2 linked regions of the Homo sapiens genome follow. The protein of the gene in region 1 interacts with the protein of each later gene in a pairwise test. Each region holds a gene or a part of one and is shown on either strand. Other genes may lie near its edges.

The links. The genes of interacting proteins can lie anywhere in the genome.
Region 2: the proteins of FAR1 (region 1) and ABCD1 come close enough for resonance energy transfer, tested with the Homo sapiens proteins (one large-scale study listed by BioGRID).

Annotation. Positions count from the first base shown.
Region 1 is NC_000011.10:13,727,668-13,730,450, reverse strand, and holds part of FAR1 (fatty acyl-CoA reductase 1), read right to left. Parts: coding exon 2,768-2,783; intron 1,840-2,767; coding exon 1,677-1,839; 3' UTR 1-1,676. UniProt on the Homo sapiens protein: Catalyzes the reduction of saturated and unsaturated C16 or C18 fatty acyl-CoA to fatty alcohols. It plays an essential role in the production of ether lipids/plasmalogens which synthesis requires fatty alcohols.
Region 2 is NC_000023.11:153,738,267-153,741,960, forward strand, and holds part of ABCD1 (ATP-binding cassette sub-family D member 1), read left to right. Parts: exon of another isoform or gene 1-312; intron 313-1,825; coding exon 1,826-1,971; intron 1,972-2,307; coding exon 2,308-2,453; intron 2,454-3,694. UniProt on the Homo sapiens protein: ATP-dependent transporter of the ATP-binding cassette (ABC) family involved in the transport of very long chain fatty acid (VLCFA)-CoA from the cytosol to the peroxisome lumen.

The DNA.
Region 1 (2,783 bases):
AGACTTTAGTATCATTCCAAAGAATATAGAGATATTTATATACATATTTCTTTTAAAATAATATTTAAAAGTTTTACTACAGAAAATCTGGCTTCAACATGGAAGCATTTTTCCTTTTCAAGATTATACACCTGCATGAAAGTAGGTGATTTCCTTTACATTTAGTTTTTCACAATAGCAAAATAAACTTTTTATACATTGCATTTAAATTGACAAAGAAAGTTAAGATGTAAAGCTCCATGTAACTTTTTGTATTGCGAACTGTTCTCTTTAAACATACTCCAGATACACTGCTGATTATCTAATACAGTACAACTTGATAAACTTAATTAGAAGTGTTATGCTGAACAATTTGTTAAATCAAATGTATGTTAAAACAGTAAGTAGAGTTAACTATTATGATTAAAAGGGAATTTTAATGTATCATTAAAATATACATCAATTTTCTTGCTATTACTTGTTTCTATAACGCATTTCTTTCTAAAGCTAAAATCACATGCATAAAAAATAAGTGATACCTTCAAACTCATTCAACAGTTTGCTACCTTATGTAGTATGTAAATAAAGTCCTTTATTTAATTTCGTACACATTATCTTAAGCATTATTTTATTTTTCTTGAAGGAATTCATCTTTCAAGGTCAAAATTAGTATGTGTTTACACACGAGTATATTTTTTAATGCTATTACTACCTGCAAATACATTCTTCCATAATAATGCACTTTCAGTTTTCACTGGAAAGATAGCACAAGCCTTTTAAAAGTCCTATGAATAAAATTTATAAAGGGAGGAGAACACAAGTATGGTGAATCCTTCCCAACTCCCACTTCCATCAAATCTCAAGAAATCCTCCTGCTTCAAAACATAAACAATCTCACAAGATTTTTATTTGATCATAATGTGGAAAAGAAAACTGTATTCCTATTCTTTTTGATACTAACAGTTTTACGGAATTTGTTTTCACTTTCTGTCAAAAAACACGTATGTTGCTGATATGGATTCTCAAACCCATTTAGATCGAATAGGGTCATTAGAATAATATAGCCTTCTGATTTTAAAAGCAACTGATTACTTATAGAAAAATGATATGCATCAGACGTTTAATCAGAAAAAGAAAAATGAGAACATCTCTTTCATGTTTGATATCATTTAACTTACAGAATGATGTGAAAATACGCTGGTTATAATTTTAAACAAAACTAAAACCCACTTCAACTAATGAAAAAAACAAAAAATGAAGAATCAAATATCTACCAACTTTGCTAGTATTACTGTCCAAATAAATGTCTTCCATTGCACTGAACATTAGAATTAGAAATTCACTATATGTTAAGGCATATTATTTTAATTAATATGTTCCAGAATTGCACAGTTATACTGGTCAGTGTTCCTATTTCCCCACTCTTGTCCTCAGCACACCCCTTTCTTCTAGGGCTCAAAATATTAAGTCATGGTTTTGGTGGCTACTGTAGATTTGAGCTGGCATAACACAGTGTGTTCACTAAGTTTTATGAGCATAAACATTAAAATGTTACATAAAATATACCATAATTTACTTCACACTCCGATCTAAGATGGTTTAATGTCTTGACAAAAAGTGAGATGACTTATACATTTTACATTTTGTACATTTAGATCACCATATGTATAGATGTTCTAATGCTGAATCCTTGGTCTTCAGTATCTCATAGTGCTGGATGCTCGGAAGTATGACAAAAACTTGTAACACAGACTAACCACAAAGTACCAGATATTTCTTGCCATTTGTGATCTTGCAATAAAAATGCGCCAGATGAGGATCACAAGGATAGTATTAAAACCATAACGTATATTCCGCAACCTGGAAAGCAAATCAAGAGATATGTTAGACAGTATTTTCTAGAAAAAAATATTGTTAGATGGCAGCTAATTAATACTGAGTTTTTAATCAAAGCTCAAATCCATATTAATTTGAAACTTATGATAGGCATTAAGTATACTGTAGGTAAAACAGATATGTACCTTGAATTTCTAGAGCTTCCCATCTAATCTAAAAAGGTTCATTCATTACATACATCACAGTACAGACAAAATAGAGCAAACTTTTTTTTTGACATCTTTAGTTGCTTACAAGTTGTCAGACAAGTAACTTACTCTTTCAGTTACAGGTGACAGTCACAAGATCAAAGGCCAAGTGGATAAGCCCTTATCCAAGCATAAAACATGGCATTAACTTGATAAAGGAGGATCCTCCCTTTTCTCAAAGAGTAACAATATGTTACTCTCATGTTTCAGCTCATGTTTCAAAAAATTTTGATGTTTCTGATGGTGTTTGAAAGAAATACAAACCTTTAGAGATGTAATAATGTTACATAAATTATACTGACCTCAGCAGGCAGTGCAAGATAGGACGGCAATGTAAGAAAAATGATGTAGAGAAAAGAGGTTCGAATATGGAGTCAAAGATCAATATTCTAGTTTGCTTTGCCACTCAATACAATATGGCTTAGGCAAATATAACTTTCCTAAGCCTCAATTTCCTCATCTATAGAACTGGCTGCCCTGCAAAGTCGCACAGAGTTATGAGGCATGAGAGGGATAATAATGTGAAAGTCTTAAAAAGTGTCATAAAAATCACATTAAAAAGCACTACAAATATAAGAGATTACCATTAAAAATTATCTGCATCTTTGAATGACAGATATAGCAAATATACCAGTTTACCAAAAAAATTGTGGAATATTTCATAAGGAAGACAAGAAGCAATCAAATCCATGCATCAAACTCACTTGTTCAGATGTTTTC
Region 2 (3,694 bases), on another chromosome or scaffold:
GGAGGGGACAGTCAGGTGGCTTCATTAGCATCCTGTGGCTGCGGTCACAAAGCGTTACAAACTTTGAGTGGCTTTCCCAGCAGAGATGGCCTCTCTCCCGGCTCGGGGAATAGCAGTCCGAGAGGAAGGCGCAGGCAGGGCGGGCTTCTGCCAAGGACCGAGAAGGTGCCTCCGCTCGGGGCCTCTGTCCCAGCTTCTGCTCTGCTGCCCATCTGCGGGCTTCCCTGGCTTCTGCCACGGCAGGTCGGCCTCAGCCTCTGTCTCCACACGGCGCTCTCCCTCTGGGTGTGTCCGTGTCTCCGTCTCCCCTTTCTGTCAGGACACAGGTCACACTGCATTAGGGCCCACCCCTCTGCAGAATGACCTCATGCAGACCTAACTCATCACGTCCGCAATGACCCTGTTTCCAAATAAGCTCACACTCCGAGGTAGTGGGGATTAGGGTTCCCACATAGGAATTTCAGAGGACAGAGTTCCACCCATGACACTGCCTGAGGTAAGCTAAAGACCACGGCCTCAAGTCTTCCCAGGAGCCCCGTGTAGCATTGTTGTTGTTACCGTGAACTTCACTGACTCCAGGCCCCTGGCCTCCTCCCTGCACACAGCCCGCCTCCAGCCTGGCCGGCATTTTCCCAAAGTAGGCATTTCCTAGCTCCAGCGAGGACCATGGAGTCAGTGAATTGAGGAGCCTGAGGTCCATGATGCAGAGCCCAGGGGCCACTGTGGCATCTCTGGGCCACTCTGGCACCTGGGGAGGCAGTGGGGTCTGTACTGTCAGTCTAGAGACATAAAGAAAGTGCTTTTTGGGCCGGGCGTGGTCGCTCATGCCTGTCATCCCAGCACTTTGGGAGGCCGAGGTGGGCAGATCGCTTAAGCCCAGGAGTTCAAGACCAGCCTGGGCAACATGGCAAACCCCGTCTCTACAGAAATTTTTAAAAATACACAAATAAGCCAAGTGTGGTGGCGGTGCCTGTAGTTCTAGCCACTTGAAAAAAAAGGCTAAAGTGAGAGGGTCTCTTGAGCCCAGGAGGTTGAGCCTGCAGTGAGCCATGATCCCACCACTGCACTCCAGCCTGGGCAACAGAGCAAGGCCCCGTCTCAAAAAGAAAAGAAAGAAACTGCCTTTTGTCCCCAGTGACTCAGGAGGCCAAGGTGAGAGAGTCGCTTGAGGCCAAGAGTTTGAGACCAGCCTGAGTAACATAGCAAGACCCTGTCTCTAAAACAACATTTAAAAATTAGCCAGGCATGGTGGCGTGCATCTGTAGGCCCAGCTACTCAGGAGGCTGAGGTGGGAGGATCACTTGAGCCCAGGAGTTGGAGACTGCGGTGAGCTGTGATCATACCGCTGCACTCCAGCCTGGGCAACAGAGTGAGGTCTCGTCTCTTGAAAACAAAGTGCCTTTCAGGGCAGTTCCTTAAAGGGGGCTGACAGTTGACCCTGCACTTGGATTCCTGGTGAAGTGGGAGTCGGATGGGACTGAGGACGGCGCTGGCTGTGTTGGAACACACCTACTCATTCAGCTGTGGCAGAATAGGCCCTTCCTCTTGTGCTGGCACCATGTTCTCCAGGCGTGTCAGGGCCTGAGGACTGGGCCGGGGCTTGTCCATTCCTGTGTCCTGGGCCAGGCATTTAGCGAGAGCCAAATTTAGCTAGGGCTGTGGACGCTGGACCCCATCCCCCAGGCCCTGCTGTCCCTTATCAAGAGATCAAGAATGGCCTGCGTGCTGGCCTCGGGCATTGGGAGCCTCTCAAGGCTGGTCAGGAGGCCATAGGGTACGGGAAGGGGCCTGCGCTCTCTGGCGTCAGCGGCTGTTGCCCCTGCAGGTGGAGGAAGGCATGCATCTGCTCATCACAGGCCCCAATGGCTGCGGCAAGAGCTCCCTGTTCCGGATCCTGGGTGGGCTCTGGCCCACGTACGGTGGTGTGCTCTACAAGCCCCCACCCCAGCGCATGTTCTACATCCCGCAGAGGTAAGGAAGCCCGTGCGCCTCTCCTCCACCTCTTCCTGCCTGTGCGCTCACACATGGCTTCCTGCAGAGGCCCAGGAAGTGGTGAAGAGTCAGCACCTCAGGAGAGGACACTGAGGCACTGTCCCCAGAGCCAGAGACGGGCTGTGGTTCCTGCTCCCTCCAAACCCGCCCGATCCACTGCCCTGTTTTGGATCTGTGTGGGGTGTGTGCACGGGCGGCGATGTGAGCGTGTGGATGCGTGTGAGCGTGGCATGTGGACACTGCCTGGGAGGCGCAGAGTATCTTGGGGGAGGCAGAGCCGGCCCTTCCCTCCGTGGACACCCAGCTTTCCCACAGGCCCTACATGTCTGTGGGCTCCCTGCGTGACCAGGTGATCTACCCGGACTCAGTGGAGGACATGCAAAGGAAGGGCTACTCGGAGCAGGACCTGGAAGCCATCCTGGACGTCGTGCACCTGCACCACATCCTGCAGCGGGAGGGAGGTAGGAGGCCTGGGGCTGGCAGCCACCCTTTGTCCCACCCTGGCCTCTCCCTTGGCCTCCAGGGAGTGAAGATTACCTCAACATCCAGAGTCTAAAGTGCCAGGTGCCACGGGGCGGGGCAGAGGCTGCTACCAGGGAGGACCAACACCACACAGATGGCCCCAGGTGCTCTAGGGAAGGGGGCACCTAGCAGGGATGTGCACCTCACTGGGGGACCCAGGATACCCTCTCCCAGAGAAAAGAGGTCTGAGCTGAGCCCTGCAGAATGCTGAGTGGTTACCCCGTCCGGAAGCCAGGGGCAGCAGGGCGGAGTGCGTTCCGAAGGCTTGGTGGTGCGAGAGGCTGGCTCACAGAGGGCCCTCGGGACCAGGCGGGAGCCTAGGCTTTCCCTGAGCAGGATCAGACGCTCTTGGAAGGACCATGGGGTGGTGGGCAGGGGCAGCCTGGGAGGGGCAGGCACATGTGTGCAGTGATGGCTACTGTCAAGAGGTTTGTGCAGACGCTTGGAGGGGGCTGGGGCCAGCAGAGTCAGGTGGATTCAGAGATGAGTTCACTGAAAAGGAGGCCAGACTGAGCTGTTGTCTTGTCCTGGGCTTATCAAGGAATACTGCTTGTCCACAGTGTCTGTCGGGCCGGAAGAGCGGAGGAGGAGAGGGGGCTGCAGCTACAGGGACACAGTAGATGGAGTGTTCAGTTCTGTCTTTGAATTCTGAGCCTCTGGGTTCTGCTTCCAGCCTGCACTGCTGGGTGCGAGATGGCCCTGGGCAAGGACCTCGCCTTGCTGGGGCTCCCCTTCACGGTTCAAGGGCACGGGCACCAAGCCCTCCCTCGGTGGCAACATGAGAAGAAGTGGCTCCTGCAGGAAATGGCCGGGGTGTTGTCACCTGCCTGTGGAGGAAGCGGGGACACAGGTGGCAATGGCAGTGGAGCAGCCCCTGGCCCGGCCCTGCCTCTTGCTCCTGCTGCCCTCAGCCTGGGAGCACGTGGCCCCTCCCGCCTCTGTGGCAGCCTGAATGCCCAGGGCCTGTGGCCGGCCAGCATGAGCCATTAGGATGGAGTTGAGCTGCGAGGAACAGAACGGGCCTCCCCGCAATAGTGGCTAAGATCATCTGTGAGTTTATCCTACTGAGCTGTTAGGTCCCAAGAGAGCCAGGCCACGGTTGCCAGGGCTGGCCCTGCTCTGTGAAGGCCCCAGGGCTCGAGGATTTTCTACCAGGTCACTCTGCTGTGTTTGGCCTCCG